2 linked regions of the Homo sapiens genome follow. The protein of the gene in region 1 purifies or fractionates together with the protein of each later gene. This does not show direct contact. Each region holds a gene or a part of one and is shown in the gene's direction. Other genes may lie near its edges.

Evidence for each region. The genes of interacting proteins can lie anywhere in the genome.
Region 2: the proteins of LRRC10 (region 1) and A2ML1 purify together in Homo sapiens (affinity purification with mass spectrometry; one large-scale study listed by BioGRID and IntAct). This does not show direct contact.

What each region holds. Positions count from the first base shown.
Region 1 is NC_000012.12:69,608,108-69,612,070, reverse strand, and holds LRRC10 (leucine-rich repeat-containing protein 10), read left to right. Parts: upstream 1-1,163; 5' UTR 1,164-1,232; coding exon 1,233-2,066; 3' UTR 2,067-3,507; downstream 3,508-3,963. UniProt on the Homo sapiens protein: May play important roles in cardiac development and/or cardiac function.
Region 2 is NC_000012.12:8,825,621-8,829,120, forward strand, and holds part of A2ML1 (alpha-2-macroglobulin-like protein 1 isoform 1 precursor), read left to right. Parts: intron 1-3,500. UniProt on the Homo sapiens protein: Is able to inhibit all four classes of proteinases by a unique 'trapping' mechanism. This protein has a peptide stretch, called the 'bait region' which contains specific cleavage sites for different proteinases.

The sequences.
Region 1 (3,963 bases):
CCGCCTCCTGGGTTCACGCCATTCTCCTGCCTCAGCCTCCCAAGTACTTGGGATTATAGGTGTGTGCCACCACACCCAGCTAATTTTTGTTTTTTTTAGTAGAGATGGGGTTTTACCATGTAGCCTAAGCTGACCTCAAACTCCTGGGCTTAAGTGATTGGCTCACCTTGGCCTCCCAAAGTGCTGGGATTACAGGCGTGAGCCACCACACCTGGCCTGCTCCAGCAACACTTCTAAGGACGGTTTCTAAAGAAATGAGTGGATTGCTGCTCACATCTGTATGCACATGGATGTTTATAATAGTCATGCTTTGTAAACAACCTAGATGCCTAACCACAGAAAACTGTTTAAATTACTGCACATCCATGTAATGGAATACTATGCAGGGGTTTAAAATAATTGCATAGATATCTGCAAACATGAAAATATGTCCATGATACGTCATGATTAAAAAATAAGGTTCCTGGTCAAGTACCATGGCTCACGCCTGTAATCCCAGCATTTTGAGAGGCCAGGGCGGGCAGATCTCTTGAGCCCAGGAGTTCAAGACCAGCCTGGGCAACATGGCGAAACCTCATCTCTACAAAAAATACAAAAATTAGCTGGGCACGGTGGTGTGCACCTGTAGTCCCAGCTACTCAGGAGGCTGAGGTGTGAGGATTGCTGGAGCCAGGGAGGTAGAAGCTGTAGTGAGCCAAGATTGCACCACTGCACTCCCGCCTGTGTGACAGAATGAGACCCTGTCAAAAAAAAAAAAAAAAAAAGCTCCTAAAGTGCAATTTTAAAAAACAAATGATTACTTATAGCGAAAAGACTAGAGGACACATGCAAATGTGTACAGTATTTATCTCTGGGTAATAGAACTATGGGTGTTTTTCATTTTCTTCTTTTACACCTTTATGTAATGTGTTAATATTTTATCATTAGGGAAAAAAACAGCAAAGCTATTTTCAGCTTGAAATGAAAAAAGGTTGATAAAGGGGATTGGGGCTTAGGTGATTAAAGGCAAGCATGTGAGTCAGACATGGCCTCCCAGCCCCTGCCGGACTGTTGCGCTGTCGCCGGACACTCAAGTTGCTATCAGGAGCACTTTTCTCTGTCAAAGTGACTGGCTTTTGTCATGCAATCCCCAAGTTATAATGGGAGGGTAGGATAGGCCCCAGAGCAGTCAGCTGAGCCAGCCCCGCTCAGTGAGTCTGTCCTCTGGGGCTCGCCATGCCCCCAGCCTCCGCATGGGGAACACCATCAGGGCCCTCGTGGCCTTCATCCCTGCTGACCGTTGCCAGAACTATGTGGTCAGGGACCTCCGTGAGATGCCGCTGGACAAGATGGTGGATCTGAGTGGGAGCCAGTTACGCCGCTTCCCCCTGCACGTGTGCTCCTTCAGGGAGCTGGTCAAGCTCTACCTGAGCGACAACCACCTCAATAGCCTGCCTCCGGAGCTGGGGCAGCTACAGAACCTGCAGATTCTGGCCTTGGATTTCAACAACTTCAAGGCTCTGCCCCAGGTGGTGTGCACCTTGAAACAGCTCTGCATCCTCTACCTGGGCAACAACAAACTCTGCGACCTCCCCAGTGAGCTGAGCCTGCTCCAGAACCTCAGGACCCTGTGGATCGAGGCCAACTGCCTCACCCAGCTGCCGGATGTGGTCTGTGAGCTGAGTCTCCTTAAGACTCTGCATGCCGGCTCCAACGCCCTGCGTTTGCTGCCAGGCCAGCTCCGGCGCCTCCAGGAGCTGAGGACCATCTGGCTCTCGGGCAACCGGCTAACTGACTTTCCCACTGTGCTGCTTCACATGCCCTTCCTGGAGGTGATTGATGTGGACTGGAACAGCATCCGTTACTTCCCCAGCCTGGCGCACCTGTCAAGTCTGAAGCTGGTCATCTATGACCACAATCCTTGCAGGAACGCACCCAAGGTGGCCAAAGGTGTGCGCCGTGTGGGGAGATGGGCAGAGGAGACGCCAGAGCCCGACCCTAGAAAAGCCAGGCGCTATGCGTTGGTCAGAGAGGAAAGCCAGGAGCTACAGGCACCAGTCCCTCTACTTCCTCCTACCAACTCCTGAGGAGCTTCAGTTGCAAGTCAATGCCAAGGACCCAACTGCAGCATGTTCTGGAAGCCTCTCCATTGGAGTGGAAAGGATGGCTCTGGGTCATTTGGGAGTGGCTCTGCTAGTAGAGACTGATGGAGAGAGCCAGGTGGAATGCCATAAATCACACTGAGAAAATATTTCTGGCAAACAGCTCCTCTTCCAGAGGGGAGTTGTGTGCCAATGATGGCATGACAATCCAGAGATCATAACTTCTTTGCAAGAAAACAGCTTCTCCACACATGTATTTTGAAACACTGAAGAGCAAAAGGGGCTGGGACACTCTGAACTCCTGCACTCTCCAGAAGTGACTGGTCATGAAGCTCATGAGCTCCTCAAATAAGGTATTTGCCATAGAACTAAATATTCTGGTGGTCTGTCTCTTTGCAGGACATATTTTCTTTACTGTAAATGACCATAAACAGTATCAATGTATCACTGAGGCCACCGAAAAGGACATTTCTACCTAGGCAATCAGTCAGATTCACAGAAAAAAGTTGTTTGTTGTTGTAAAGGCTCAAGATGAAACTCTTTCCCCAGCAGTTTAGTGCCTGCTGAAAAGATCCCTGATGGACAATACTTCTTGGTGGACTCCAGCTGCCCCTTTTATTATTATTAGAGACAAGGTCTCACTCTGTTGCTAGGCTGGAGTGCAGTGGCACAATCATGGCTCACTGCAGCCCCGAACTACTGGGCTCAAGCCTTCCTCCCGCCTCAGCCTGCCCAGTAACTGGTACTACAGATGTGCACACCTGGCTAAGTCTTTAATTTTTTCGTAGAGATGAGGTCTTGCTATGTTGCCCAAGCTAGTTTCAAACTCCTGGGCTCAAGCGATGCTCCTGCTTCAGCCTCCCAAAGTGCTGGGGTTACAGGCATGAGCCACCACACCCAGCCTTCAGCTGTCACCTTAAACTTGACAGTGGCTCATGCTGATTTAGTTCATTTTCCCTAAAAGGTTTGTCCCAAGATCTGCTCCCAACAGTTGACTGTCACTGACAATGTTGGAAGTCATCTGGAAAAGAGAACCTCTGTGGTAATGTGGTCTCATTAAAGTCAAGCCTTGTTGTGATTCCTGTCTACCTCCCTGAAGCAAAGCCCTTCTGTTTATTCACACTAATGAGCCAGAGCTGAGCTAAATTGAATCCCTGTCCTTGGAGGAAAACCACATTTCCAGAAGCATGTTAGTTTAAAGGTAGTAGGTGAGAAATGTGTTCTCTTGAAACAAGCACTTTGAAATTTGAATAGGAAGTTGTAGTGTATATAGGAAGTCTCTGCCTCTTTCGCCTAGTATCTCTGCCTTTGTTTCAATTTGTTTTGATTTTTACAGACTGTTTTGACAATGTATAAACCAAGGTATTTTGTTTTTTGGAAGTATGTAAATTGTGACCTTCCCACAAATATATAAACTTTAAAGAAATTGTTGTCAGTGGGTAATTTAATAATACAATTCTTTATGTACTTGAACGTTTTCAGCAAACAAGGACACAAAAAGTGTTATCTTAACTAAAACATACAGTACCAAGTTTTTAAAAGGATGTTTTCTGTAAAAGCATCTTAACCCAACAAAGTTTGGTTCTAAAATGACATTACACAGCAGACCTATTTTCATGTATGTCTTCCTACCAGAAATATTTCCTGCTAAACTAGAGGAAGGATGATGTTGCATAATTCCTTCCTATCGTCACCTCCCATCTGCAGAGCATTTGCAACCCATTGATCAGACTGCCAAAAAAGGTCCCTTTAATCATTTAATGTAATAGGTTTAAACTTTCAGGTCAAACATATTTAACTCCTTTAGAAACAAGTCCATATTTCTGTTGGACAGTTAGGATTTATCTCATTCCTAATGACGGAAGCCAAATTATACTCAGCT
Region 2 (3,500 bases), about 61 Mb from region 1:
CTTTGGTTTCTTGTGCTCCTTGGGTATTACTCAAGAAATCTTTGCCCAGACCAATGTTCTGGAGAGTTTCCCCAAAGTTTTCTTATATATAATAGTTTCATAGATTGAGGTATTAGATTTAAATCTTTCATCCATTTTGACTTGATTTTTCTATATGGAGAGAGATGAGGGTCTAGTTTCATTCTTCTGCATATGGATATCCAATTTTCCCAGAACCATTTATTGAAGAGCCTGTGCTTTCTCCAGTGTATACACTTGTCACCTTTGTCAAAAATGAGTTCACCCTAGACATGTTTCTGGGTTCTCTATTCTGTTCCATTGGTCTATGTATTTGTTTTTATGACAGTACCATGCTGTTTTGGTTACTATAGCTTTGCAGTATAATTTGAAGTCATGTAATGTGATTCTTCCAGCTTTGTTCTTTTTGTTCAGAATAGATTTGGTTATTTTAGGTCTTTTATGGTTCCATAAAAATTTTATGATTTTTTTTACAAAAGTCCTAAGATTTAGGATGTAGAATTTCTGTGAAGAATGTCATTAGTATTCTGATAGGGATTGCAATGAACCTGTAGATTGCCTTAGGTAGTACGGAATTTTAACAATATCAATTCTTCCAATCCAGAAACATGAAATCTCTTTTCATGTTTTTGTGTGTCCTCTTCAATTTCTTTCATCAGTATTTTATAGTTTTTATTGTTGAGATCTTTCACTTCTTTGGTAAAGTTTATTCCTAGGTATTTTATATTATTTATAGCTATTGTAAATGGAATTATCTTTCTTAATTTCTTTTTCAGATTGTTCCCTGTTGGCATATAGAAATGTTACTGAATTTTTTTTGTTTTTGAGACAGAGTCTCCCTCTGTTGCCCAGGCTGTGGAGTGCAGTGGCGGGATCACTGCTTACTGCAACCTCTGCCTCCTGGGTTCAAGTGATTCTTGTGCTTCAGCATCCCAAGTAGCTGGGAGTACAGGCATGCGCCACCATGCCCAGCTAATTTTTGTTTTTGTTTTTTTGTTTTTTGAGATGGAGTCTCATTCTGCCGCGCAGGCTGGAATGCAATAAATGGTTGCTCATTGCAGCCTCTGCCTCCTGGGTTCAAGTGATTCTCCTGCCTCAGCCTCCCGAGTAGCTGGGTTTACAGGTGAGCGCCACCACCCCTGGCTAATTTTTGTATTTTTGGTAGAGATGGAGTTTCGCCATGTTGGCCAGGCTGGTCTCCAACTCCTGACCTCAAGTTATCCTCCCCACTCAGCCTCCCAAAGTGCTGGGGTTACACGCGTAAGCCACCACGTCTGTCTTCTTGCACTTTTAGGATTCTTTTTTGTTTTTTATTCCTTGATGTTTGGGAGTTTGATTATTAAATGTCTTGAGGTAGACTCATTTGGGCTAAATCTGCTTGGTGTTCTATAATCTTGTAATTAATATTGATATCTTTCTCAGCTGGGCTCAGTGGCTCATGCTTGTAATCCCAGCACTTTGGGAGGCTGAGGTGGGCAAATCACCTGAGATGAGTATTTCGAGACCAGCCTGGCCAACATGGCAAAACCCTGTCTCTACTAAAAATACCAAATTAGCCAAGCAAGGTGGCCTGTGCCTGTAATCCCAGCTACTGGGGAGGCTGAGGCAGGAGAATCACTTGAACCAGGGAGGCGGAGGTCACATGAGCCAAGATCACATTACTGCACTCCAGCCTGGGCAACAGAGCGAGACTGTCTCAAATAATAATAATATTGATATCTTTCTCTAGGTTTGGAAAGTTCTCTGTTATTTTCACTTTGAATAAACTTTCCATCTCATTTTCTCTCTCAACCTCCTCTTTAAAGTCAATACCTCTTTTTTTTTCTCTTTGTTAAATTTATCTGATAAGATTCTGAATTCTTTCTCTGTGTTATCTAAAATTTTGTTGAGTTTCCTCAAAACAGCTATTTTGAATTCTCGATCTGAAAGATCACTATCTTTGTTTCTGGGAGATTGGTTGCTGGTGCCTTATTTAGTTCATCTGGTGAGGTAATTTTTTCCAACATGGTCTTGATGTGGATGTTCATTGGTGTCTGGGCATTGAAGAGTTAGGTATTTATTGTAGTCTTGGCATTCTGGACTTGTTTGTACCTGTCCTCCTTGGGCAGACTTTCCAGGTATTTGAAGGGACTTGGGTGTCGTAATCTAAGTGTTTGGACTCTGCAGTTCATCTGCATTAGGGAGGACCCCATGCTCAGTATCTCTGTGGCTCTTGAAGGCTCATAGAGGTACCTCCTTGATGGTCTTGGATAAGATCTGGAAGAATTCCAGATTACCAGGAGGAGACTCCTGTTCTCTTCCCTTACTTTCTCCAAAACAAACAGAGTTTCTCTCTTTGTGCTGAGCTGCCTGGAGAGAGGGGTGACACAAGCACCCCTGTGGCCACCAGCATTGGGACTGCACTGGGTCAGATCTGAAGCCAGCACCGTACTGTGTCTCACCCAAGGCCTGTGGTAACCAGTACCTGGCTACTGCCCATGTTTGCTCAAGGCCCTAGGGCTCTACAGTCAGCAGGTGACAAAGCCAGCCAGGCTTGTGTCCTCCCCTTCAGGGTGGTGAGTTCCCCATGACCCTGGAAGGTCCAGAGATGTAATCTGCGAGCCAGGGCCTGGAGTCAGAAACCTTAGGAATCTACCTGGTGTTCTGTTCTACTGCAGCTGAGTTGGCACCCAAGCCATAAGACAAAGTCCTTCCCACTCTTCCTTCCCCTTTTCACAGAGGAGTCTCTCTCTGTGGCCACCACTACTCCAGGCCCACAGGAGTACTGCCTGGATACTTCCAGTATTCTCTCGAGGCCCAAAGTCTCCTTTCACCAGCTTGTGGTGAATGGTGCCTGGCCTGGGACTCTCTTTTCAGGGCAGTGAGCTCTCCTCTGACAAACAGCAGGTCCAGAAATGGCATCCAAGAGCCACAGCCCATAACTGGCGACCCCAAGGGCCTGCTTGGTGCTGTACCCCACTGTGGCTGAGCTGGTACCTAAGCTGCAAGACAAAGTCCCCTTGACTCTTCCCTCTCCTTTTCTCAAGTAGAAGGAGTCTCTCCCCATAGTCACCACAGCTGGGAATGTGCTGAATCACTGGAAGCCAGCATGTCTCTGAGTCTCACCCAAGGCCCACGACAAGTACTGCCCAGCTATCACTGCTGAGTATTTAGAGCCCCAGGGGCTAATCGGAACTCAGCTTCCAACCGCTGGGATGGGCAGTTCACCCCTGGCTAACGCTGGTCTAAATGCTCCCTCCATGGGCACTGGCTGAGTTCTGCCCTGTGTGCTTTCCCCTGTGATTGGGCAGCATTGCATTCTAAAGCCAAGTCCCACAGTCACTGTGCTCTCCCGCCCTCAAGCTCATCGATTCTGTCTCTGTACCACAGTCACTGCTGGGGGATGGCGGGGAGGGGGTGAATCAGCAATTCAAGTGTGTCTTTTCTACCCTCTTCAGTGCCTCTTTCAGTGATATAAAGTTAAAACCAGGCACTGTGATCAC